Homo sapiens: one gene and its partners. The protein of the gene in region 2 purifies or fractionates together with the protein of the main gene of each other region. This does not show direct contact. Each region holds a gene or a part of one and is shown on either strand. Other genes may lie near its edges. The genes, in order: ZNF609, SBSPON and ZNF703.

What was found.
Region 1: the proteins of SBSPON (region 2) and ZNF609 purify together in Homo sapiens (affinity purification with mass spectrometry; 2 studies listed by BioGRID and IntAct, with this or other methods). This does not show direct contact.
Region 3: the proteins of SBSPON (region 2) and ZNF703 purify together in Homo sapiens (affinity purification with mass spectrometry; 2 studies listed by BioGRID and IntAct, with this or other methods). This does not show direct contact.

What each region holds. Positions count from the first base shown.
Region 1 is NC_000015.10:64,463,578-64,470,577, reverse strand, and holds part of ZNF609 (zinc finger protein 609), read right to left. Parts: intron 1-7,000. UniProt on the Homo sapiens protein: Transcription factor, which activates RAG1, and possibly RAG2, transcription. Through the regulation of RAG1/2 expression, may regulate thymocyte maturation.
Region 2 is NC_000008.11:73,067,245-73,077,444, forward strand, and holds part of SBSPON (somatomedin-B and thrombospondin type-1 domain-containing protein precursor), read right to left. Parts: intron 8,500-10,200; coding exon of another isoform or gene 8,406-8,499; intron 7,342-8,405; coding exon of another isoform or gene 7,277-7,341; exon of another isoform or gene 7,275-7,276; intron 4,627-7,274; coding exon 4,536-4,626; intron 2,738-4,535; coding exon 2,561-2,737; intron 215-2,560; coding exon 97-214; 3' UTR 1-96.
Region 3 is NC_000008.11:37,689,840-37,700,256, reverse strand, and holds ZNF703 (zinc finger protein 703), read right to left. Parts: upstream 4,476-10,417; 5' UTR 4,278-4,475; coding exon 4,035-4,277; intron 3,113-4,034; coding exon 1,583-3,112; 3' UTR 238-1,582; downstream 1-237. UniProt on the Homo sapiens protein: Transcriptional corepressor which does not bind directly to DNA and may regulate transcription through recruitment of histone deacetylases to gene promoters. Regulates cell adhesion, migration and proliferation.

The DNA of each region.
Region 1 (7,000 bases), on a different chromosome or scaffold from region 2:
CGCACTCCAGCCTGGGCAACAGAGCGACTTCATCTCAAAAAGAAAAAAAAAACTGCTTGAAAGCAAATACTTCCTAACATTACTCTCAATCTGAAAGTTCCTGAAACACTTACCAACCAGCTTTTCATTTCTCGTCTCTTTTAGGAGGGTATTTCAGAGATACCCCCTTGTTCGTCATACTTCGGCAAATGTCATCAACGTGCATTTTCAGCATTAAAAATAACGTAATTGGCTGGGTGCAGTGGCTCAAACCTGTAATCCCACCACTTTGGGAGGCTGAAGCAGGAGGATGGCTTGAGCCTAGGAGCTCAAGACTAGCCTGAGCAACATGGCAAACCATCATCTCTACAAAAAAAATTACAAAAATTAACCAAGCATGGTGGCACACTTTTGTAGTCCCAGCTACTTGGAAGGCTGAGGTGAACCCACTAGGTCAAGGCTGGGTAAGACCCTGTCAAAAATAAATAAATAACAACATAATTTTATTTTCCGAACAAAACACTGTGGGCAACTCAACTTGTACTCAGTCCCAAGAAGTTAATTCAAAGTGGAATTTCTACTGACTAGTCAAAAGTGGAAAAATATCCAACTAACCTCCATAATCAGTCCAATTTAGCTCCCAGATTTCAGATATAATAGATTATTAGATCCTTGACTGAATTTACAAAGTTACTTCTTATTGATAGATGGCAAATCCTTCCAGGTACAACTTCCTTCTCACAAGCTAAGGTTCCTTTTCTGCAGCTTTCTCAACTCCTGACCTCAAGCTGATCCACCCGCCTCGGCCTCCCAAAGTGCTAGGATTACAGGCGTGAGCCACCAAGCCAGGCCAGCCTTTTTTGCAGCTTTCTGATTTCCACTCCTATGTTTTAAGCACACTAGAAAAAGATATATGCGGCAAGTTGGTGAGCCTGCAGAATGAGGCTACAAAACCCTCCAAAAAAAGATGGCCTAATAAAAGTACAGCCTTCCAAACAAATCAAAGAGTATGAGAGTCAAGCCCCAGGGAACTGAAATTGCACTCATTAGCCCTTCTGAATACCGGCTATATTTTTGACCAGCAATAAAAAAAAAAAAGATGCTCACTTATGTTAAATATTTTTGTCCTGTTCTTCCACCATAATCTTTTTTTTTTTTTTTTTTTTTTTTTGGAAATAGGGTCTTGCTCTGTGCGAGTGAAGGCTGAATTGCAGTGGTGAGATCACAGCTCACTGCAGCCTCGACCTCCTGGGCTCAAGCGATCCTCCCATCTCTGCTTCCTGAAGAGCTGGGACCACAGTGCACACCACCTGGCTAATTATTTACGTATTTATTGAAATGGAATTTATCTCTTGTTGCCCAGGCTGGAGTGCAATGGCTTGATCTCGGCTCACTGCAACTTCTACCTCCCAAGTTTAAGCGATTCTCCTGCCTCAGCCTCCCAAGTAGCTGGGATTACAGGCATGTGCCACCACACACGGCTAATTTTGTACTTTTAGTAGAGACAAGGTTTCACCATGTTGGCCAGGCTGAATTGTGTTGTTTTTTTTTTTTTTTTTTTTAAGATATGAGGCCTCTCTGTTGCCCAGGCTGGTCTCCAACTCCTGGGCTCAAGTGATCCTCCTGCCTCAGCCTCCCAAAGTGCTAGGACTACAAGTGTCAACCTGACTCTCAATCTTGGTATCATGATATTCTACAGCTAAATGGAACCGCAGTGATCATCCTGTCTAATGTGTTCATTTCACAGATGAGGCACATGAAAACAGGGGCATGACTTGCACAAGGACAAACAGCTAATTAGAGGCACAGTAATGATCAGAATCTGGGTTTTATGACTCTCAATTCTATGATTTTTTCCCCTCTATTCTTTGAAAAGCTATACTAGCCAGGCATTGTGGCTCATGTCTGTAGTCCCAGCACTTTGGGAAACCATGGAAGGAGGACTGCTTGAGTCCAGGAATTTGAGACCAGCCTGGGCAACCAGACTGGAGTGCAGTGGCACACAACATAGTGAGACTCCATCTCTACAAAAACAATTTAAAAATTGGGCTGGTCACAGTGGCTCATGCCTATAATCCCAGCACTTTGGGAGGCCAAGGTGGGAGGATGGCTTGAGCCCAGGAGTTCAAGACAAGCCTGGGCAATGCAGCGAAACAAAAAAAAACACACAAAAAAATTAGCCAGGTGTGGTGGCATTGAGGCTGGAATGAGCTGTGATTGCACCATTGCACTCCAGCCTAGGCAACAGAGTGAGACCCTGTCTTAAGGAAGGAGAAGCAGAAGGAGGAGGAGAGAGGAGAAAATGAAGGAAGGAAGGAAGGAAAAGAAAAGAAAAGAAAGGAAAGGAAAGGAAAGGAGGAAGGAAGGAAGGAAAGAGAGGAAGGAGAGGAAGGGGAGGGAGGGAGGAAAAAAAAATTAGCTGGGTGTGGTGGCGCCTGCCTGTACTTCCAACTGCTTGGGAGGCTGAGGTAGGAGAATTGCTTGAGCTCAGGAGGTTGAGCCTGCAGTGAGCTGTGATCGTGATTGTGTCACTATGCTCCAGCCTGGTGACAGAGCAAGGCCCTGCCTCAAAAAAGAAAAAAAAAAAAAGCATACTAGTAAAGAAAACATAACACTCTTAGACAATATCTTAACTGTAACAAAGACACAGAAAAATAAAATTTCATCCACATAAAGAGAAGTGTTAGAACAGAAGAAGCAACATTTGTTCATATAGTACAGGGGTTACTTAAGGCACATATTTTCTTTTTTCTTTTTGACAGAGCCTTGCTCTGTTGCCAGACTGGAATGCAGTGGCACGATCTCCACTCACTGCAACCTCCATCTCTCAGATTCAAGCAATCATCCTTCCTCAGCCTCCCGAGTAGCTGGGACTACAGACGTGCGCCACCATGCCCAGCTAATTTTTGTATTTTTAGTAGAGACAGGATTTCACCATGTTGGCCAGGATGGTCTCGATCTCTTGACCTCATGATCCGCCCGTCTCGGCCTCCCAAAGTGCTTAGATTAGAGGCGTAAGCCACCGCACCGGGCTAAGGCACATGTTTTCTAAAGTATTTTATTAATTACCACCTGCTAGAATTTATGTCCTGTGTTTTCATCAAATGTACCTCCTTAAAAGCAGGCCACAGTGACACTTGTGGCAAAGGTCAGAAAAGTGATACTTCTGGCATAGATAACTGATGGTACAAAAGGAATCCACAAAGGTGATGCCCACAATCAAGAAGAAAGGACTGAAGAAGGGGTAGAGATATTGCTGGGAGGAAGTATTCCTGAAAAATGGAATTAAAAAAGAAAAAAACCCCAAAGAAGTTGGCCAGACACTAATGACCAGAGAACACAATAAAAAGAAGGCAGTTTCAGAGCTTGTCTGGCATCAGACAGCTCTCACCTGCAAAAGAAAGAAGGAAAAATTTCTCACAGAGACAAGAGAAAAATCCTAGGTTTGCCCCTGAGTGATGGACTAGATATGACCTGACAGGTATTTGCCATCTCTTATTTCTGGGACTCTGATCCAAGAACAAACAGCAAGAGAACCATGAAAAATTAGCCCTGTTGGATCTGGAGTTCTGCCTTGACAAGATATAAAGCTCATTCATAGATCTGACTGTGCTCATGAGACTGCAGTTCAACTCCTGCTGCTAGAGCAAGGGGAGGGGGGAAGAAAGAAAGGGGTGAGAGAGAAGGAGGTGGAGGATCTGGGTTGTGACTATAATAGCTACAGTAATTAGAGTGTTTCCAAGCTGCTAGAGAAGTCTTCAGGGTAGGGAAGTGGGATAAGAGATGGGGGTGGGGGAAAGGTAAAAGGAAGCAAACTACTGAGAGTGCTAGGAAAGCATAAGTGGTTTGTGAACAGTTTTAATAAAACAAACATAAAAAACTGCCATAGCTTCGTATGAGGAAATCAAGAACTTGACATTCTTTCCTAGAAGTGAATACTAAACAATTAACTGCTGTCGCTAGACTTCCACTTAAAGCTAGCTTAGCTTTAGGTAGATCACTGCAAATGTCCCCATCTATGCAGTGCTCCATAGGCCCTGACCTGAGTCATAGTCTGGCCTCACTTTCCCTCAAAGAGCCTTCACTCCACTTGGGCTGTGGGAAAGAGATTTCTGAACTTTAAAACAGTTCATATGGCTCATTTCTCTTCAATCATCCGTTAATTAGTACCCTGTGAATTCCATTAGGTCGTGTGTGTATGTGTTTCAAGAGAAGGGGCACACAACCTGTTGGCCTAATATAGAAAATGAATGGAAGGCACTAAAAAGGTCAGAAAATAAACACAAAGTTACTTGCTTACAAGTTTTAGGCTCTATGGCATTCCTATTATAGTGGCACAAACATATGAAAGAGAAAATCATATTAACAGAAGATGATAATCTATTAAAAAATCTGAATTTTCAGAAAACCTCAAATAGTCTTTTCCCAAGTTATAGGAAATGCTATACCCCCCGCTAACTTTTTTTTTTTTTTTTTTTTTTTGAGACAGGGTTTCATTCTTGTTGACCAGGCTGGAGTGCGATGGCGCAATCTCAGCTCACTGCAACCTCCACCTCCCGGGTTCAAGCGATTCTCCTGCCTCAGCCTCCCGAGTAGCTGGAATTACAGGAGTGCACCACCAAGCCTGGCTAATTTTTGTATTATTAGTAGAGATGGAGTTTCACCATGTCAGCCAGGCTGGTCTCAAACTCCTGACCTCAGGTGATCTGCCCGCCTCAGCCTCCCAAAGTGCTGGGATTACAGGCATGAGCCACTGCGCCCGGCCTATATCCGTTTTTAAGATAAATATTTAGTGGTGATGTTCCTTAACATCATTTCTTCTGGTGATGACTTGGTTCTAACAAGTGATGTTAATGTCAATGTCAGGGAAAAGAGTTACAAAGGTGCTGGGAGAAACTAAAAATTGAAAAAAACAACTGGCAGGGCATGATGGCTCACACCTGTAATCCCAGCACTTTGGGAGGCCGAGGTGGGTGGATCACCTGAGGTCAGGAGCTCTACAGCAGCCTGGCCAACATAATGAAACCCCATCTCTACTAAAAATACTAAAATTAGCTGGGCATGGTGGTGGGCGCCTGTAGACCCAGCCATTCAGGAGGCTGACGCAAGCAATTGCTTGAACCTGGGAGGCAGAGGTTGCAGTGAGCCGAGATCGCACCATTACACTCCAGCCTGGGCCACAGGAGCGAAACTCCGTCTCAAAAAAGAAAAACAAACAAACAAACAAATAAACAACCGAAGAGATGCAAACTTCATGTGGGGAAATATATTCATAATATAAAAACATAATATAAAAACACATGCAAAATCACTTGAGTAAGGCATGTCAGGTAGACTTCCACAAAAAGTCAATTACATCATTTGCATAAAACCTATTAGGTATCCACCCAGTAGGCTAAATCTTTTTCACCATACTGAAAGCAAGAAATTTTCTCCTTCCCATTTCCCTTTAATAAACAAGTACTAGAAACACTGAATTACCACTATTTCCCTCCCATGCACAAAGCATAAAGCCAGAACTCCCATAAATACAATAGAGCCGTGTAGGGCCATGTCTAGGGCATGCTACTGAGTGATCTAAAAAACCACAGTTACAGAAGAATCTCTTTCTCTATTCTATTACCATCTTACTAACAAATCAACAAGCATTAAGAAATGTGAAACAAAGTGCAATTTCACACATACAAACTGAATCTAACCCACGGAAGACCAAGTATTTTCTTGTCACTGTGGCATGTGATTCTTCAACCACCTGCTCAGTAATCCCTCTTCAGCTACACAGCTGCTGCCAATTCCACATGCCCAGCTAGGCAGGTGCTTTGGTGAATTACCTGTTCCCTAGCGAAAAGAGTCCTTCACTGACACTTAGTGGACCCAGAACCTGCCAATCAACATCACCTATCTTCATTTTGTCTGTCACAGACAACTTTTATAACAGAGGTATCATGAAGGCATATTTAATACATTACGATATTTTGCATTTTGTGGGGTTTTTGTTTGTTTTCTTTAAAGGAAACTGATTTTGAAAAATCAAGTAGAAGAGAGAATTAAGAGACTGAAAAGAAAACTTCCCACACAATATAAGGCTGCCTCATCTCAGGCTAATCCCATCTGCCTGGCAGTATTCCCATCCATGACCAGTTTTCCATGAGGGAAATAACAATTGCTTAGCTACCTTCAGAGTAGGAGAAAAGGGCAGTACAAGTACTAAGGTACCTGGAAAAGAAGTAACTACAAAGAGGAAGCAGAGTGGGAACTTCTGGAGAACACATATCATTGCTATACTTAGCCTCCATGGCTAAGCTCAGGCAATAGTGTTCTGAGTCAAATAAATAAAATAAATAAGGAGTGGCACTTCCACTTGACAGAGCAATCAGTAAACCCCTCAACAAATTATCGTGTTCCAGTCATTTAGTTGCTATATGCTAATTGCAACATAATTGCTACCAGGAGCCAAAATTATGCCTCCATATCCTCACAAAATAAGCACTAATCTGTCCAACTTTCTAGACTTCTATCACAAGGAAATTTTTTTCTACCAAGAAGCTGGGACGGGTAGTTGGGGGGGAATCCAAAGCACTCTTTGAATGATGGTCACAATCAGAAGACTCACATGAGATTCCTTGTGGCAAGGGCCCAACTCTGAAGCCACTAAATCTAATCAGGACAAATTTAATCTGAGGCTTCTGCCTTCACTGTCACCTGACAGCATTCAGAAATAAATGCCAAGAGCCCAAGAGCAAAAAGCTTTGGACTCAGTTTAGCTGAGGCTTCACTCAAATATTCCTAGGACACAGAGTTGGAAATAGTCTAAAGACAGACAACACCTCCAGTAAGGCCTGAAGACAGTTCTGTTATCAAAAAATATATAAAGGTCAGAACAACCTGTTCCCTCCTATCAAAGGCCCAACACCTCAGTGGCAGGCCATCATTTAAAGAAACTCACTGAAATAAAAGGATAAGGGAGGCACCATAGACAGACTAATTGCCTCAGAAAGACCTTTACCAAAACCAAAGGCTA
Region 2 (10,200 bases):
GACTTTGGCCAAAATTGAAGGTTTAGGAAACATTGAACATGACTTGAGAATATTTAGAATGTTTACAAATGCATTTGGAAATATTTATATCACCATCTATATAAAAATAAAACTGTGAACAGCTGGACAAGAACACTGGTCTACTCGCCGAACTTTTTTCCAAGTTCCTTGACACCGAGGATTACCAATTGCTTGCCAATGGAGAGTCTGATTTCTGAAACGATATTTCGAAAGTGTTAGTTACACTAAAAGCATACCGAAGAAAGGTCTAATTTACAGAATTAAAACTCGGAGTTAAAAAAAACTGATCACAGCCTGAGCAATATAGTGAAACCCCGTCTCTACTATATATATATATATATAGTTTTTTTTTTTTTCTAATTAGCCAGACATGGTGGCACACGCCTATGGTCTTGGGAGGCTGGGTCCACAGGTGCATGCCACCACGTCTGGCTAATTTTTATAAAGAAAAATTATTTGTAGGGATGGAGTTTAACTGTGTTGCCAAGCTGATCTCAAACTCCTGGGTGCAAGGGATCCTCCTGCCTCGGCCTCCTGGCTCACGCTGGGATTAGAAACATGACCCACTGCACCCGGTTCCCCAATTTTTTTTTTAATGATCACAAACAGAGTTTCCCTTGTTTAGTTTCTGTCAAAGCAAGTTTTAATTCATTGCTACTTTAGGACACCCTCATGTTGACAGAGTAACTTGGGGTTACTGTATTTGCTTTTCCCGTTCTATCTGAGCACAAGTGCTGCATAAAGGAAAATGGCTGACTGTTCTATGTGTATTTAAACTGGGAGGTCTGAACTAAATGATCTCTTTTACTGCTTTCCAACTCTGATTTCATAATGAAAAAACAATGAGAGAGCTGAAAAGAACAAAGCCAGATTATTAAAATTATTATTTTTAAAGTCACTGCTACCTCAGCCAGGGTTTAAATACTATATGGGTACAAATTAAATTATAAATTCATTTAAAACCAAAACATGGATGAGGTATTCAGAAAAATATTATGTAAATATTTTCTATTTGATATAAATTCCTTACCCACTTTATTGTTCTTATGGTGTGCTCAATGGAGGCCATGAGGCACTAGTGACTAATAAACATAAATTCTAGTTATTAAATATGAAAACATTCTACAGGAATAATAATTGACTGGAAAGGCCCATATTTTACCTTTTAATCTGTATTTCTACCAGTTACACCTGACATACTGAAAACCATAATCTATGTGTGACCTAAATTAGTCTTTGCCCAATAGTTGCCCAGCACGAAGTTGACTCTTCTTTTAGTTTTGTATAGTGTTATCAAATTTAAACACTAAATAAGTGCAGAACTGGGATACAGGTGCATGACTGTAAAATGTTTTTGGAGTCAATTATTTCAGAGAAATCTACAGATTTATATAAGATTATTATACCGCAGAGGTGACCCCACCACTGTCTCAGTCAGGGTTTTATGAAGAAGCCCCATTGAGCAACAGTTCTGAAACTTCATCGTGGGTATGAATTACCTGGGCAGGGGTCCCCAAACTAGGACCCCGTAGAGGCCAAAGCCGGCCTACCCCTTCTTTGTGTCTGGACTGTGAGTTAAGAATAATTTTTATGTTTTAAAGTGTTAAAATCAAAACAATAATGATATTTTGTGACACATGAAAATTATACGAAATTCAAATTTTAGGGTCCATAAATAAAGTTTTGTTAGAACAAATCCAAGGTTTGCATAGTGTCTGTGACTGTTTTCCTGCTACAAAGTCAGAGTTGAGGGGTTGTCACAGAGACCACACAGCCTGCAAAGTCAAAAATATCTACTCTCTGGCCCTTTACAGAAAAGGTTTTCTGGATCCTGACCTAAGACATTTTTAAAAATCCACCTCCAAAGAGTGATTCAGTTAGTCGGAAATGAGGTTCAGGAATCTGCACATTTTACATCTCCATCTCACGAGATTCTGATTCTAGTGATCTTCAGAACACCACTTTGGAGTGATCAGGTTTTTGGTGATCATTTGGGAATGTGATCTAAACTCCAATATCCTTTTTTTTTTTCTTCTGGAGACAGAGTCTGGCTCTATCACCCATGCCAGAGTGCAGTGGTGCAATCTTGGATCACTGCAACCTCCGCCTCCTGGACTCAAGTGATCCTCCCCAGTAGCTGAGACTACAGGCATGCGCCACCATGCCAGGCTAATTTTTTATTTTTTGTAGACATGGGGTTTTACCATGTTGTCCAGGCTGGTCCCAACTCCTGAGCTCAAGCAGTCTACCCACCTCGGCCTCCCAAAGTGCTGGGATTACAGGCATGAGCCACCACTCCCAGCCCCCAATGTCCAAATGGACCCATATTAACTGCTGGTGTATAGGGCCTGTGGGTTCCATAGTGGGAACTGGAGCCCTGGCCCCAGGCAGTGCCAGAGGATGGTCCTCCTCACCTACTGTTTTGACTTCCCAGTCATCCCTTGATATGTTACATACTGGTCAGCTGTCTGGACATGGAGAGGACAGATTTCTCAGAATGAGTGACAAGAAAAGTACTTCAGTTAATTTCCATTCTTACCCATCGGAGTCCAGGCCATCTCCAGAACAACGAAGGCTCACAGAGTTCATAGCTGGAGGCTGACAATCCACACACACCGTGTATCCCTCTCGGAGATACTGCATCCATCTAGTCAAGGGCCAGTTTTCCAGAGCACAGTGAGGAGTCAAGGACTCTGTCTTAAACTCCATACAGTATCTACAGCAAAAGAAGTAACAATGACACTTGCTGTAATGAGCAGTGGCCTAAAGCTGTAGAAAGTCTTAGAAAGCCTGTCACCTCCAAGGGCATTTGGCCGACTGGAGCAGGTAGTGAGTACATCTTCACAAGTTACGTGTCAATCACCTTTAAGGTTTCTCATTCCCTGAAGCATGGTGAAATATTACTGATAATCACAAAGAACCTTTGTGCCCTTTTTCAGTCCATCATTGAGCTCTCTGGGCAATATAAATGTGCAGAAGTTTGGATATCCTGTATCCTGTCTAATCAGATCACTAAATTGTGCACAGAAGTCCAGGTTTTTGTAGAAACCCAGTCCTTGATAATTTTGCTGATCTAAAGGAATTCTATAAATTGAACAAGCACTTGCTTGAGCCTGAGAACCCTAAAAATGTGAGCCCAGGAGGGCTAGCCCTTAACACCTAGGTCAGCACCTCTGCTGTTCTGCTCCACGAAAGTACCCGGGATCTTCCCCACCCTCTCCACCCACCTCACTTGTATGGTCTGGAGTAATGATGATGAGTTTTGACTTGAAGTCAATTATCACAGTTACATTGGGCATCGCAGGTGAAAGCAGAAGTGGGAGGCTGAGACACACTTTTCTGACAGAAGTTAGTGTCACCTTAAACTGAGCTGCGGAAAACTCTAACATTATATGTGACTGGACACTGAAAGCCCAGGGGAACATCCAGACATGAGGAATATTTTAGAAATTTGTACTTCAGTGCAGTTTTCCAATTCTTCAGGGAAACAAGACATAGTAAAATCTCCGAGTATTGTAACAGAAACTTGTGGCATTTTCAGTTCCATGGGCTAATTTCTTACCCATACAATTATGAGTTGCAATATGTTATAAATGGGAAGTGTTTGGAGAATCTGCTTTAAAGATCTTTAAGAATGATAGGTACAGCTAATTAGTAACTAAAGGTAACAAGTATCTTTAGTTATTGAGGTAAGAAATCCTACAATGTGGCTTCAATCAATTTCAGAGAGCTAAGCCCAGACAGCTCTTTTTAAAAAAGTATTTATTTTTCATAGAGATGGGGTTCTCACTATGTTGCCCTGGCTGGTCTCAAACCCCTGGGCTCAAGCAATCCTCCTGCTCCAGCCTCCCAAGGCACTGAGGTTACAGGTATGAGCAACCAGGCCCAGCCTCAGGCATCTCTTCAATGTTATTTTCTCATTAAATGCTCATACCAACCTCATGTGGTAGGTTATTAACAGTCTCATTTTTTAGGAAGAAAAAACTGAGGTGGAACAAGTTGTTCAAGGTCTTATGCTAGTGAGGGCAGTGTGGGGACCTGAGCGTGCAGCTGTCTGGTATCCCTTATCTGACAGCAGAAGAATGGATTTCAGCTGAGCGTGAAGGTGACTTCCAGCCTGTACCAATAGGTTTCCATAAGAAACCTCTGAGTTGAAGTGTGTGTCACTTTCAAATTCACCAAACAGAGGTGGTGCTGAAGTCTAACGTCCCATAAAGACTGTAAGAGAAGCATCCTTAGTATGATTGATAAAATAAGCTCACAAAATAATCTCATTTGTATATAGTTTGTTTCTTGTTGAAGATTGGACCTAAGAGGTAGATATATCTTTATAGCTCCACAAAAACCAGGAGGGGACAAGTATTTTCCCAACTCTGATGAAGAGTCCATATTTTAGCCAAAGTCAAAGAGCAAGTAGAAAGAAGAAGAAAACATAAACCAAGTTGACCCTCTTGCATTGACTTGACTATACAATTGAAAAACATGATTAAAAAAAAAAAAAAACACGAAATTACCCAGCATCCTCTGTGTGTGTAGACCAGTGTGGAGACGTAGCTTGTCGTGTTCTCTCCTTGTTGAATGCAGAGGTAGTTATAAAGGCAGGAACTGGAAAAGGGAGATTTCTGTTGAATTCAGGGAGCCAAAGTACTCAGACCATCGTTTCCCAATTTTGGTTTTGTACCTGTCTAAGGGTCTCCATTCCTAAACTCACAGGGCTACGGCACACCATCAAGGTGTGAAATGAGGCCAAGTTACAAATTCAATAAAGATGTGTGTGCACACAGATCGGTAGGGAGGGGGCCTGCAGGCCTTTGACAAGCACATTTGTCTGCAGTAATAAAACTGTGTGAGAGGAAGGAGAGGGGCCAGGAGGAAAAACCAGAAGGAAAGGAAGATGGGGGTCAGAAGGGGAACAAGGGAAAAAGTGAGATAATAGAGAGCATGAAGAGAAGAGGAGGTTTCAAAAATGAAAGGAAGAGAAATAGAGAAAGAAAGGGAGAAATAAGATAATAAAAGAATAGAAAGGAAACAAAGAAGGATAGAGAGAAGACAAAAGAGAGTAAAAGCGGATGGAAGGAGAGAAAACAGACAAACAGAGAAAAAAATGAGAAAGGAAAAAAGCAGCTGGCGTGTTGGCTCATGCCTGTAATCCCAGCAGTGTGGGAGGCCATGGTGGGTGGATCATCTGAGGTCAGGAGTTCAAAATCAGCCTGGCCAACATGGCAAAACCCTGTCTCTACTAAAAATACAAAAATTAGCCGGGCGTGGTGGCAAGTGCCTGTAATCCCAGCTACTCAGGAGGCTGAGGCAGGAGAATCACTTGAACCCGGGAGGCGGAGGTTTCAGTGAGCCGACATCGCGCCCCTGCACTCCAGCCTGAGCAAAAGAGTGAAACTCCGTCTCAAAAAGAAAAAGGCAGAAGAAGCAGAGGAGGAAAGAAGGTGAGTCTTCCCCAAGCCTCAGGTAACCACAGCAGGAAAAGTTCATGGAAGCTCTGCCCACCACATAGTATCAATGTGGCTGCCCAGTGCCAGCCTGCACAGCATTGTCCCCACACCAGCTCAGGGAAAGAAAGTCTTCAGTGGTCCCCTTCTTTTCCCTCTTCCTCCCCACAACCCTCCCCCAACTCTGATGCTCTGGGTCAGAGAAAAAAAAATGGCACCAAGAATCCTTCCTCCTGTCTCTGCTCACTTTAATTCTATTGTGTTTGTGTGTCTCCTCTCTACCTCATCACTAAGTCTAGGGAGGCATTTGTTGCTATAATAACACCTATAGGTGTCAGTCTCCTGGACTGACTCTGTTGTCATCTTGAGGAAGGCAGGGTTTTGCCTTGTCCATCACTATAGCTTCACACATTTACACACTCAATAAATATTTGTGCAAGGAATAAATGGGCCAGTGAGTGAATGAATGAGGTCATGGGCTTGCAGCCAAGACACACAGGCCCTACTTCCCTGCAGTCTTCCGTTCCTATACTGAGCCTTGCAGCCAAGATGGCTCAGCAGTCCTCTACCTCTGTTTCAGAAACTGCGCGATTCCAGGAAGGGTAGATACAAGCTGATATCAACTTATGAGACGCCAAAGTCATCATCAACATGAACTCAACAATGTGAGGATACTGGTTGCAAAATAGATGCTTGAAGCCTACATGTTGATTTTACCTGTCTCTTTACTATCCCAAGATGACAAACCTTAACTCTTTTTGAGCTTTTCTTAATGAGGAGTTATTTTTGTATTACTAGGGAATTTAAGACAAAAGGCCAGGCACAGTGGCTCATGCCTGTAATCCCAGCACTTTGGAAGCCCAAGGCAGGCAGCTCACTTGAGGCCAGGAGATCAAGACCAGCCTGGCCAACATGGTGAAACCCTGTCTCTACTAAAAATTTTACAAAAATGAGCCAGATTTTGTGGCATTCGGCCATAGACCCATCTGTTCGGGAGGCTGGGAAAATCACTTGAACCCAGGAGGTGGGGGCTGCAGTGAGCCGAGATCACACCACTGCACTGCAGCCTGGGCAACAGAGTAAGACCATCTCAAAAAAAAAAAACAAAAACAAAAACAAAAAAAAACAGACAAGAGCAGCTGCCTAATACCGGGTAGCCACTTGTTCCTGTGTGGCTCTTTTTTGCTGCACTGACATGTTTAATTGTTTTCTAAATGTGACTGTAGCGTTTGCATTTCTAAGATCTACAGACAGAATTAGAAAGAACAAGAGAGTGCATGTATATCAGGATCCCTCTCTGTTTCTCTGAGACCTAATTATCAGAAACACAAACATCTAAAGGATTTAATTCTCCCATACATTTTCATTTCTGTTCTTCAGACACACATATGTGTTTCTTCACTAAGTGAAGAATCAATTTACTGCTAAATCCATGCAGCATTACACAAGTCCACCTGTAATTTTTTGGGGATTCTTTAGCTCAGATATTTATGTAATCAAATTTGTACTGCATATATCATTACAAAAGTTCAAAGGCAAGGTACTTAATGTATAGCTCAGAAAAAGAGGCTATGAAGTGGAAGGAAAACATAAATATATGATTCTAGTTTCTGATACAAAATTCTTGGAAAAGGTTCTATAATAATAAAAATACGCACTTCTAAGTTTCCAGGGACAACTCTAAGTCACTTTTCAGGTATTAATTTATTTAATTCTCACAAGCCTCTTGAGATAGATCCTATTATTTCCCCATTTCACAGACAAGAAAATTATGGCACAGAGAGGTTAAGAAATGTGTTTAAGGCTCACATCTAAATATAGCACAGCCAGGCAACGTCTCCGAAATCAAACTCCTCAGGGCGGCACTCCACTGCCTCTGTAATAATATAGATGACAAAGTTCCAGTACTGTTTGCAGCATCTTTCCCATGAATTATTTAAATTTGGCTTTATTTTCCCTTTCTGTCACGAATCATTATGCTCTATGTGAAGTCAGATTTAAGAAAGGAAAAGAGAAACTTTTAGCCCCTTGTATCTGGAGTCACCTCAGTCCATGAGAGAGGTAAGGAGGCCAGGGAGGGCACACAGTGGGTGCAGGGTCACCCTCTGGGTACCATGGCCCCTGGTATGTGTATAGCCTGCTCATTTACAAAGTAATTTCACATCATGTGTTACCTTCAACAAAAACTTTGTAAAAGGGTGTTATACCAATTTCATTCATCAGAAAACTGAGGCTCACCGAGGTTAAATGAAGGGAAAATAAGTAGTAAGTGACTAAGCAAGGACCCAGCACAGAAGCTATCTTCTGAGGGCTTGGGGGTTTGCATTTTTGTTTTCCATTTTCTGTTTGTGGTAGAGATGGGGTCTCACTCTGTTTTCCAGGCTGGTCTTCTGGGGCCCAAGCAATCCTTCTGCCTTGGCTTCCCAAAGTGCTAGGATTACAGGCATCTGCCACCAAGCTTGGCCCATCTGTTTTTCAGGACTTTCTATCAAGCTCAGTTTCATGCTCTTGGGATTAGGGTGCATCCTAAGAGCAAGCCAGGTACCCAGGGCTGTCCCCAGGCCTTGGGCTTGGTGGTGGCACATTCTATTGCCAAGGTCCCTCTCACATGAGCCAGACTGCCTGGAGGTCCCAGAACCAGCATCACTTTTTAATACACCCCCCCCAAATTCACTTTTCATTACTTAAGTAATGAAATAACTTAGAAATTATTTTTGCCTCCCGCCACACTTCTGCTAATGTGCGGAAGCACGTAACCCAGCATCCCTGGGACAAAGGCCCCCAATAAATCTAAGTTCCCCTTCCTGGCAACAGTATTCAAGTGCAATATATTCTTTGTTCACAGGCGATTTGCCAATGTTTCTGGCGTTCTATCAGCCTCCCATTGTTTGGTTTTACAACAACTTCCACTTCTAAAAGCAGGGCATTGCATATACTTACTTTGAACATGAAAGTAAATTAAATTTGCTTTGAGAATTTCATAACGCCCTCTGACACAATGGGGTGTCACAAAAGCAGGCCTGGGATCACTGGTCTATAGTACAGAAGAGAGTAAAATGAAAAATTGACAAATAATATCTACCTAGAGGCATATGGTTTATAATAATGCACATTGATCTCCTTTTAGGAGGAAAACACATATATATAAACAATTGTCAATGATGTGCAACACATTCAGTAATGTGGCTTTTTAAATTTGTTTTTATAATAAAAATATAATTATGGTATGCATTAAATGAAACAGGAAAAAGGAAATAGCTACTCAGTCATTAATAAGAGAGCTTCAGGGATCATGTTTCCTTCACTAGCTTCACGGGCATTTATATTTCTACTTAGTTACAAGAATCTGTAATTACAATTTTAGCTGTAATGATGACAGTTAATAGCAAAACACTATTGAGGTGGGAAAATCCCATAAGACTTAGAGCCGGGAGATCCAGGTTTTAGTTCCAGTAGTCCTTCACACGTGCTGTCACCTCTCAGAACTCCAGTGTCCTCAGGTGTAAACCAAGGATAATGACTCTGTCCTACCTCTCTGTGGAGGCAGAATTGTGGCCCCCAAAGAATGTCCATGTCCTGATCCCCAGAATCTGTGAATATGTTATATTACATGGGAACAAAGAATTAAGGTTACAGGTGGAATTAAGGTTGCTGCTCAGCTGACCTTAAAATAGGAAGCATAGCCTGGGTTTTCCAGGTGGACCCAATGTAATCACAGGATCCTAAGAAAGAGCTGGTCAGAACTTGGCCAGCAGGGCGAAACCCCATCTCTACTAAAAATACAAAAATTAGCCGGGTGTGTTGGTGCGCGCCTGTAATCCCAGCTACTCGGGAGGCTGTGGCAGGAGAATCGCTTGAACCTGGGAGGCAGAGGTTGCAGTGAGCCATGATCACACCACTGCACTCCAGCCTGGGCAACAGGGCAAGACTCCATCTTATATGAAAAGAAAAAAAAAAAGATGTGGCAACGGAAGAAAGGCACCGAGAAATGCATTGTTGCTAGCTATGAGGATGGAGGACGGCGGCAGTGAGGAAAGGATGTGGGCAGCCTCTGGAAGGTGGAAAAGGCAAGGAAGAAGAGTCTCCCCTAGAGCCTCCAGAAAGGCCTGTAGCCCAGCTGACACCTTCATTTTTGCCTGGGGAAACCCATGTCAGATTCTGATCTTCAGAAATGTAAGATCATAAATCTGTGGGGTTTTTTGTTTTGTTTTTTTGAGACAGAGTTTCGCTCTTGTTGCCCAGACTGGAGTGCAATGGCACAATCTTGGCTCACTGCAACCTCCACCTCCCAGGTTCAAGCAATTCTCCTGCCTCAGCCTCCCAAGTAGGTAAGATTACAGGTATATGCCACCACACCCAGCTAATATTTTATTTTTAGTAGAGATGGGGTTTCACCATGTTGGTCAGTCTGGTCTCGAACTCCTGACCTCAGGTGATCCACTCACCTCGACCTCCCAAAGTGCTGGGATTACAGGCATGAGCCAGCACACCCGGCCTAATCTGTGTTGTTTTAAGCCACTAAATTTGGGGTAATCTGTAGCAGCAGCCGTAGAAAATGAATACACTCCTTCACGGGGTTGCTATGAAGGCTGAACCAATGATGCCTGTAAGATCTCTCTGCTATGCAAACATGAGGGATTCGTGTGCCGCGCCTCAAAGGCGCCTGATCTGCGAACAGGAAGTCTAGTGGGGGTGGAAGGCAGTAACAGGGACACAGGTGACCATGAAGCAGGAT
Region 3 (10,417 bases), about 35 Mb from region 2:
TGGGAGCTACATAACCAACTGGGGAAAAAAATTAAAAGGTGGTTTTATGTTATTTGTAATGCGTTGGCAGAAGTTTTGTTTTTTCTCCCCCATTTCTTGAGGAAAGGCATTAAACTCGTCCTTGAACGGAAATCACAGAAGGAAACCATAAGGCATTTTAAACAAGAATAAAAGAAGGGCATCTGCTTAGGTGTCTGGAAGAGGGTGGGCGAGGCAAGAGAGAAAAACACCACGGTGTGAATATAGCCAAGTATTCCATTTATTAACAAAATAAGTCTTACCAAGGGAGAGCTCTGTTCGTCCCAAACAGGCCCCGCAGCCCCCGCGCTGCCGCATCAGACCAGAAGGAGGGAGGAGTGGGGAGAAGACCCCAGTCGCTGGGGGGTCCACTCTGGGGGCTCTGCCGGGCCAGGCCTAGGAGAGGGCGGGGGCTGCTGTGATCCGAGAGCTCCCTGACGCCCCAACCTTCCCCGAACGCAGCTAACGAGCTCGTGACATCCGCTGACATCGCCACCGGTCTGCTTTGGAGGGATCTAGCGAGAGTCACCTACCCCACCCCTACTGCCAGGGGAGGGGTCGTTGCCCCCACGAGGGAGAGAAAAACAAGGACTATAATGCACTTCGCAAAATGTAAGGGGCCGGCTTCACGCCAGCGGGGCCTTCTGGGACTTTGAATTCAACCAGGTGAGCGCTCCAGGTGCCCCGACAGGCGCACTGTAGCCACTGGGTGTTAGGGGCGGGAGTCTGGAAGGTGACGGTAGACGGCCACTTGGGCCCTTCTGGGGGCGAGCCTACTGGTGGGGTCAGGGCTCTCCGTGCTCAGAGCAAGGTAGAGGAGCAAGGCCCTACTTTTGGGGGGCAGGGTCCAGACCAAGGACCCTATGCGCGGAGGGTGGCGGGGGAGGAGTCCCGGAGCAGTGTACCAGGTCAATAGAGCTCCAGGGCCCCTGCCACCCAGGTGGCCCCCTCCACCCCCAAAATGAGTTACAAAAAAAACCTCCTCTCTGTTACTTGTACAACAAAGGAAAAAACAAAACAAAACAAAACAAAAAACAAAAACAGAACCGCAAATGGAAGGAAACAAGAGGGAATGAAGGGGGAAGAGGGAAAAAGAGAAGGCGGAAACGTAGTTTTAAGTTAAGACTCATGCAAGAAACTCCCCAGGAAGGGAAAACAAAACGTCTAGAAGAACCCAAAGACCCCAACTCTCCCTCAAACCAAACCAATCAAAACCAAAAAAAGAGGAAAAGGAATAAAAAATGTAAAACTTATATCTAAGAAAAAATAACAGAAAGGAACAGGGGCGGGGATCATGTCGTTATTTGTGGGATTAATATTATTATTTGGGAGAACACAGACTTTTTGCATACCATTGACTCATGTGGGCCGTTAATGCACTTATATTCCCAGCTTGTAAGCTAACATTATAGTAAATAAATACACAGTCCGGTGGGGAAGGGCTGGGTGGGGAATCCCGGCAGGGTCAAGCAGTAGTGGAGGTTGCAGCGGCGACGGCAGGTGGGGAGGGAGGAGGAGGGAGAGGGAGGAGGGTGAGGGGGCTGGGGTGGAGGAAGAGCTGTAGTTACTGGTATCCCAGCGCCGAGGCTGAAGCTAGTCTCTGTCCATACAGCGCGTATGGCGAATAGTAGGGTCCGGCTGTGGGGAGGGACGGCACGGCCAGGCCCCCCGCTGTGGATAAGTGGCTCTTGCCATAGGGGTGGTACCGGCTTAGGCCCAAAGTGTGTGGATTCCGCAAGGACAGCGACCCGGGGCTGCCGGGGGCGGCGGGCGGGGGGAGGTGCAGATGGCAGGAGGCGGCGGCGGCGGCGGCGGCGGCGGCGCTGCCCAGGCCCGAGGCCCCGGGGTAGGCGGCCAGAAGTTTCTCGGCTCCCGGCAGGGCCGTGTGGGTCCGTAGGTGGCTGAGCAGCTCCTCCGAGGTGGCGAAGCGCTTGTCGCACGGCCCACTGGCTGCCACCCAGTTGCAGCTGTGCGGCAGCGGTTCGTTCTGCAGCATGAAGCCGTAGGTGTAGAGCGGGTGGCCGGGGAGCGCGGCCTGGGCGGCGCTGGACGAGAGCGCGGCGGGCTGCAGCGGGTGCCCGGGGTACACCAGCGGGTAGCCCCCCGCCTTCAGGCTGGGCCCGGCAGGGTCGTGCGCGCTGCAGGTGGAGCAGCTGGAGCCGCCGAGGTGCGAGGCGCCGTGGTAACCTCCCAAGCAATAGGGGTCGCGGCATAATCCCTGCAGGAAGGAGGGCGGGGAGGCCCCGGTGAGCGGGCTGGAGCTGGGGGGCTTGCCCGGCGGCAGGCCCAGGCCCCCAGACAGCTGGCCTCCCACGAGGCCGGACTTGCTAGGATCCAGGCCAGGCACGAACTGAGACGGGTAGCCGGCGTAGGCGCCCACGATGGAGCCGTGGTAGCCAATGCTGGAGGGCGGCAGCGGGAACACCGAGTGGCCCGGCTTGTAGGGAGACACCGGCGCCACGTGGCCGGCCCCCACCAGCGCCGAGGGCGGCTCGGACTTGCGCCCGGAGGCCCCGGACTCGGCGCCACCGTGCGCCCCGGGCTCCCCACCGCCGCCGCGGCTCACGGCTGCCGGCTCCGGGCTGGGCTTGGGCTCCTGGTCTTTCTTGTCCAGCTCCCCGCCGCCAACCCCGCCGCCGTTCTTGCAGTCAGAGTGGTGCGGGGAGCCGCCGCGGGAGCCGCCGGGCGACGACGAGGACGAGGATGCGGAGACCGGCGCTCCATGCGGGGGAAAGGGCGGGCAGGCGGCGCTGGGGACCCTGAAGCCCGCCTTGTCTCCCGGGGACGAGGAGGACGAGGAGGAGGTGGAAGACACCGAGGAGGAGCCGCTGTCTTTGCGGGAGTCGCCGCCGCCGGAGCCCTTGGAGTAGGGCTTGAAGCTGGACTTGTCCTCGGCCGGTGAGTCCCCCAGCTGCTTCAGGGCCGCGGCTGCGGAGGCGGCGCCCGGGGCTGAGCGGCCGGGGTCCTTCTCCGCTCCCAGCCCGTTGGCCGCCGCCGCCACCGAGTTGAGTTTGGAGGAGGGCGGCGGGTCCGGCTTGCCGATCTGCGAGCAGGTCTGAGCCAGCAGCGCCAAGGGGCTCTTCTTGGCGTCCAGCTGTGGGAGACAGAAGCAGGGGGAGGGAGAAGGAGTGAGACTCAGAGGCCTGCGGGGCGAGCGGGGGCGCCCGGGGAGCTGGGCGGCGGCGCCACGGGGCGGGGCGGGCCTGGGGAGAGGGTCTGCGAGCGAGGGCCGGGCCGGGCGCGGCAGCTGGCGGAACTGCGCCCACACTGCCGCTGGGTCCCGGGGTGCGCCGCAGGCCCTGCGGAAGGAGTTCACCCAGGACCCCTGCGGGAGAAGGTGACGTCTCTGGAGTCGGGGCTGTGACTCGCCACTTCCCTCTAATGTCCCCCTCCTCCAGGCCCAGGAAAAAACTTATTCCTTTAGTTTGGGGGAACTTCGCTTGGGACGGGTTTCTGGCGATGGCGCCGCGGGGTAGGAGAGGGGAGCGCGGATTCTAAAGGAGGGGCTGCAGTTGGCGCTCTCTCCGTAGCCCCTCCCTCCCGGGGAGGGCACCCAGGGAAGAGGCAGGAAGAAAGATCCGGGATCGGGAGCGCCAGGGCGCCGTGCGCCCTCACCGGATGGGACAGAGGCGAAGTGGGACCCGGGCAGCCAGGGCTTCAAAGAAAACAGCCCGGCGTGGGGGGCGGGGAAGACCCAGCAGAGACCAACTCCTGGCTGGAAACTGGGGATCAGAGGAAAAGTAAAGGACCCAGAGGGGACTCCAGGAGCAAATCCAATCCGAGAGAAAACACGGAGCTCCGAAGGGCGAGCGTGGAAGGAGACCCTTCCACGGGGAAGCCTGGGGAAGCCCTGGTGGGCTCTGATCCCTCGGTTTTCTTCCCCTCCTCACTCAGCCCGCCAGCGTGACCAGACTTGGGTGTCGCACCGAGCCCCGGGGCGCTGGGAGCTGGGTCAGGGTCCCGGTCGCGGTGGGAGGAATGGGGCCGGCGCCCGGGGGCAGCGGCCGGGGACTGACCTCAATGGGGCTGACGGGAGTGGAGGACAGCGGCTGCAGGTACTCCGGGTGCAGGAGGTGACCGGTGTGAGCGCTCAGCATCTTCAGGACCCTGATCGGGAGCCGGTTCGCCTGGCGCAGGGGGTCCGCCGGTGGCAAGAGGGACACCGCTGCCGGCACCGCCGGCCTCTTCCCGCCGCCGCCGCTGCCGCTGCCGCTGCTTTCGGGTGTCCTTGGGTTAGATCCAGCGGGCGAATCGCTCATTTGGAGGAGGCAGCGCCGCTGGGGGGGCGGGGAGGGCGGGGGAGCACCGGGGAGGCGAGCTCCCGGGGCGGGTGGGCTCGCTCCGCAGCGTCGATCGCGGTGCAGCGGGAGCTGCGCCTCCTCGCCGCCTCCCCTCCTCCACCGACGCCTCCGCCGCCGCCGCCACCGCCGCTGGCCCCGGCTAGCAACACAAAAACCTTCGCCTTCCTCGAGCCGCACGTCAAATAGCCGCGATCGGCAGCCACACTTCAAAGGGATCGCCGCGCCCGCCCAATCGCAGCTCTCGCCGGGACCCCGGGGCGGGGAGAGCGGCGGGCTGAGGCCGGCTCCATCGGTGGGCGGGGAGAGCCTTAAAGGGGCCGCGCCGCGCGCCGCCGCTGCCTCGGTCTCGGCCGCTCCCGGGATTCCTCCCCTCCCCCCGACTGGGCCTTCCTCGCCCTGGGGTCCCCCGCCTGGGACGGGACTTCTCCGGGACCCTGAGCTCTGCGCCCCGTCCTCCTTTCCGGCCGCTCTCTCTCCTCTCTCCCTTCTCACCACTGGGTGGGTGGGGGGTGATGCTGGCGGGGGCTGTAACCCCGCCCGCCGTGTGTGTCCGAGGTGGGGTGGGGTGGGGTGGGGTGGGGTGGGAGGGATCGCACGGCGCGGGCTCTGGGACGCTGGAGTTCAAGCCTCTCCCAGAGGCCGCCTGGGGGCAGGCCTCGCCTCGGGAGCCCGGGTCCTTCTCCAGAGCTGCTCCGGCTCTCCTCGGCCCCGCTCTCCTTCCCCTACTTGGCCTCCCCTTGGTGTGTTCACTTGGAAGCGCCCGAGCCTCGGAGGCACCCACTGTTCTCGGGACGCGGCGTAGGCAGCTCCAACTACTTTGAGCCCGTCTTGTCTGAAGCCTGCAAGTTTGTCTCCCTTCTGGAGTGACATGGTCGGCGACCAAGCGCGGGACCCCAGGCTGTGCGCGCTGTGCCTGCGCCCTGCGTTAGAGGCTCGGTGTCTGGTGTGTTACAGGCTTCTTACCGTGTCCTGCTGAGGGGCGTGAAGTTCCTCACTGTACCGCGCCCAGCTGCTACGAGGAGAGACCGAGATCACGGGCGAGGCGGGTGTCCCTGGAGGGGGATCTCTCTCTAAGCGCTGCTCGGCAACACAACCCCTCCGCCCCCCCATCCTTCTCACTCCGGGGGAAAAAGCACTTGCTTTCCCCAGGCAAATTTCGGGATAAAAACTTTTAATTAAAAATAACAATACCCTTCCCGACTCCCTGCGCCTTTCTGATACAGTGTGCATTGCTAGCTTCGCCCTGGGCAGAGATTTTACGTAGTCATAGTCCTGACATCCAAGTTCCGGATCCGCCGCTTTTCCGGAGGCGAAGTTGGTCCTTTGGGTGCCGAACTCTGGGGAGCCCACTTCTCCGTGCGCTCGGCGGCCAGTGGAGGCGCGCTGGTGTCACTGCCTGGCTCCCAGCACCACTTTTCCAGTCCCGATCCATCACTCCGGTTGTCAGGGCTGTCACTCGGGGCGTATTGCTCTAGGATGGCAGGTTCCCGACTCTGCCGCGCTGACCGACGCCTTGAGATGACCTGAGAACCCAAGATGGGGAGAGGTGATTTCAAAGGAGCTCTTCAAACAGAAAGAAATAGCTATCACGAATCTGTATCTTGCCCAGTAGTAGAAGACAGCAGACCCCACTTCCAGGCAGTATCAGTCATACCCAAAACTAAGTGCACTCCCTGGATCCATACTGTATTTTGGGCAGCACTTATAGAATGCTTAGAAATTACACAAGCTGTAATTACATGTTCCCCAATTTTAATCTTGGTAAAATCATGTTACGCCGAATGGAAAGGGGTACCCTGACTGTGAGATGGATCCCACATTGCAGCAAGAGGGGTGCGGGAATGAAAAGGGAGGGAGTGATCTCATTTATTTCATCGTGGCAGGCTTCTCATGCCGACTTCTGTGCGGGCAGCCATTGCCATCACTGCAAACACCACCTGTAAAAGTCCACTGCAGGGCTGTGTCCACCCACAAGCCATTTTGCCTTCGGGAGACTGCTGTGTAGAGCGGGAAGGGCAGAAGGAAGCCAGGGTGCAGAGAGGCTGGCCTTTGCAGGAACGCAGAGGAGGAGGAGCTGGGCAGAGGGGAGACCTAGGAGGCTATGAAAGATGAAAGTCTCCCTGATTATTGTAACCAGCCCAGCTGTGAGAGGGAGCCAAGGGATCCTTCTAGGGCCTGAGCAGATGTGTGTTAGAAATGATTAATGGGAAATAAGTCAGGAGGAAAAGGGGAGGGGAGAGGGAAGAGGTATTTAGGAATTTGGAAAACAGAGCAGGAGGCAGCTGAAAGGAGAGAGGGGAGAAGAGAGAGGACAATAGAATATTCACTCTCTGTTTGGAGAGGAAAAGAGAAGGAAAAAGGTAGTGAATGAAGGAAAGGAAGGGAGAGAAGAGGAGGTAAGGACAGACTGGCAGGATGTGATGGGGGATTTGCCTAGGTAATACTATACTGTCCTGTTAAAAACACCTCACTCCCTGAGCTCCCAGTGGTAATTACTGACGGGCACACAGATTGGCCTGCTCCCACCTCCTGGGAAGTGGTAGGACACACCTCTGAAAGCATGCAAGGCGGGAGGGACACACTTTGAGCTGCTGGTCAGGGCAGCAGGGTTTCTTTGGCTGGATCCATCCAAACGTCTTAGGAGGGAAAATGAAAAACCATGCATAGCCAGGCCAGAGGCCTAATTAAAACACTGCTAGATGATTATTACAATTGGGATTCACCATTCACTTAGCTAAAATGCTAACCTATACAGAGCACTAAATGGGGCCCTCGGGGCCTGAAGGCAAGTGTAGTTTTCAGAGGAATGGCTTGTCACCTGGGAGGGAATGTGGCTCTGTATTCAGATGGGCTGTGTTTATGGAGGGCGATGTGGTTGGAAGGCCCGAGTAAGACATCCCTGTTCAGGACATATGACACAGGTTCTCCCTCTGCAAAAAAGTGGCAGATGCGTGGCTCAGGGGCCTTCCACTGTCCAGGTCCTCCTCAGATGGCCCTGGGAATGAGCGGCCACCATTAAAATGGGACAGGGGAGAGGGCTGCCTGAGAGTGCCCCCATGACACTGTGGTGAAGAATGACAGTTCGGTATGTCAGGCGCTTAATAAACATCAGGTGTTGCTATCATTCTCAGTTCAAGCTGAAGAGAGTCAGGCCCAGAACCAGGCTGCTGTGGGGACCCCGGGCAAGTGAACCTCCCTAAGCTTTGGTTTCCTCCAGGGTAAAATGGAAGCGTGGCCACTTCAGAGTTGGGAGACCAGAAGCAGACAATGCATGTCACCTGTTTCATGCTTGGCACAAAGAAAGTTGAAGGTAAATGATGGCTGTAACCGATTGCATCATTTGTGTCTGAGGAGCAATTGCTCAGGGGAGCAGCCACATCAGCACCAGATTTAGCCCTGGGAACCCAAGCAGAAGAGCCCAGGTTGTCTCTGAATTCTACAGAAATGAAAGTAACCCTTCCCCAGCCTCCAGTTCAATGTGTCTTTTTTTTTTTTTGAGACGGAGTCTTGCTGTCTTGCCCAGGCTGGAGTGCAGTGGCATGATCTCGGCTCACTGCAACCTCTGCCTCTCGGGTTCAAGCGATTCTCCTGCCTCAGCCTCCCGAGTAGCTGGGATTACAGGCGTGTGCTATGATGCCTAGCTAATTTTTGTATTTTTAGTAGAGATGGGGTTTCTCCATGTTGGCCAGGCTGGTCTTGAACTCCTGACCTCAAGTGATCTGCCGGCCTCAGCCTCCGAAAGTGCTGGAATTACAGGCATGAGCCACCGTGCCCAGCCCGCAATGTGTCTTAAAAAAAAAAAAAAATAGCCCATCCCTCCCTAGAAGCCATCAAGAAAATCCTTTAAGAAACTGTGAATATGTATAGATTATTTTTTCACTACTTCAATTTACATAAAATTCACCACCCAGGAAAAAATGCTCGAGTCAGGTTAAGACCTAGAGGGGGTAGATTTGTTGTGTGGGGTTAATGTGTAGTTTTCAGTCCTTGCCGAGGCAGAATTGCCTGAATGATCGCCTCTCTCTCCTCTCTCTGCATAACACTCAAACCCTAATGGCAACAACATGAAATAATATCTCACTGGGTAACTATTTACATTTTTTTTTTTTTTACAAGCTGTAAGAACTCTGAAAAGTCTGCCTCATAGAGAACTTGGTTTTCCTCCCTGGCGCTTAATATCTTTCAGCGGCTGGCAATTACTGCTTTGGCCGGGAGCCCTGATTTAGCACACTGCACTCAGGGCACTTGAAGGCGCTTCCTCTGTCTGCCCCATCCCCCGGCTTCAGACACAGCCTGGGGCACGAGAGGGGCACCAGGGAACAGTGGGAGCAAGCAGGCTAAGACCAGGACAGCCAGCCCTGCAGGAAGCCCGCCCCACCGATGACTCAAGAGGCTCCCTCTTCTACATTCTCACAGTTGGTATTATGTTCTATTATTACACCTATCACATGGCATCTGCCACTATTTGCTTCCTTGTCTGATCTCCCACTGGACTGTGAATGCTTCTTGTTTTCCTCATCCTCTTTGTGTACTTATTGCCTAACAGAGCGGTTCACCATCACCACAGTAGCCAACGTTGAGTGCCAAACGCTGTTCTAAGCACTTTGCGTGCATTCTCTCATTTAATCCTTGCAGAAACCTTAGGAGATGGGTCCTATGGTTACTTCCATTTCACAGGCACAGAAAGGTTAAGTAACTTGCCCAAGGCCCAAGCTGGTAGGAGGTGAGCCTGGAGTGTCAAATCCAGGTCCAGGCAGTCTCAGTGCAGTTAGTACCCAGTGAATGTTTCTGATGAACGAAGAATTTTACAAAAATAGGGCTATTTATTTATATCACACCTCACTGTATTCCCAAAAGGTTTAACACGGATGATTGTATTTTTCAAAATGTTGATTGTATAAACATGTTAAAGTACCTTTTCCCAAATGCATTGTTTTTTTGAGACAGAGTCTTGCTCTGTTGCCCAGGCTGGAGTGCAGTGACGTGATCTTGGCTCACTGCAACCTCCGCCTCCTGGGTGCAAGCGATTCTCCTCCAGTCTCAGCCTCCCAAGTAGCTGGGATTACAGGCGCCCACCATCATGCCCAGCTAATTTTTGTATTTTTAGTAGAGACAGGGTTTCACCACGTTGGCCAGGCTGGTCTTGAACTCTTGACCTCAGGTGATCCTCCTGCCTCAGCCTTCCAAAGTGCTGGGATTACAGGCGTGAGCCACTGCGCCTGGCCCCAAATGCATCTTTGGGTCCAGCATCTCACAGCAATTTTCTTTCCTTTGGGCAGGTGTTATTATCCTTGTTTGACAGATGAGGAAATGGGCTCGGAGAGCTTAAGGGAGCGTCCAAAGTCACACACAGCAAAAGGCTGGCAGAATGGGCACAGAATGAGTCCTTCTCGGTCCCTTCCCTGGTTCTTGGTCTATTGCCTTCTGCCACTGTTGTTGTGTGGACAGAGAGCTAACTCCTTTTGATAAAAGAAGGAAGAATGAACTCCTTTTCCTCACCTAAGAATTTCCTCTAGAGATGTGGTGGGGAGGAAGGGACAAAAGGAAGTGCGGACCAAAGCTTGTCTCCAAGCCTGTGCGTTTGATCCCGGTCCTTGAGCAGCTGCTTTGAAGAGGGTGGTTTGGTTTATCTCCTATCAGCTCCTGGGGAGCTAGGCCGGGGAGATGGAGTAGGTGTGATTTTGAAGTTCTCCTTCCTTAGCCTGACCTGCCCTGATACATCAACGCTAGCCCTGGGCATTCACCCCTGACTGCTTTGTTCCTTTGGACCTTCAAGTTTCTTAGAGATTCCTCTTTTAAGTCGCTAATGTTGCTGGGAGGCGTCAAACCCTTTTTATCAGCCAATTGTGGTTAGCAGAGTGAGTGTTCCTCCCAGGATAATAATAACATCTATTGAACACTTATCCTGCTAGACACTGTATTGAGCACCTTGCCTGTAATAACTCATTTACTTCTCACAGCAAACCATGGTGAGCACTATTATTATGCCTGTTTTATAGGTAAGGTACTGTTTTGTAGGTGAGGCCCAGAGAGGTTAAGCAACTTGCCTGAGTTACACTGCTAGAAAGTGGTAGATCCAGGATTCAAGTCCAGATAGT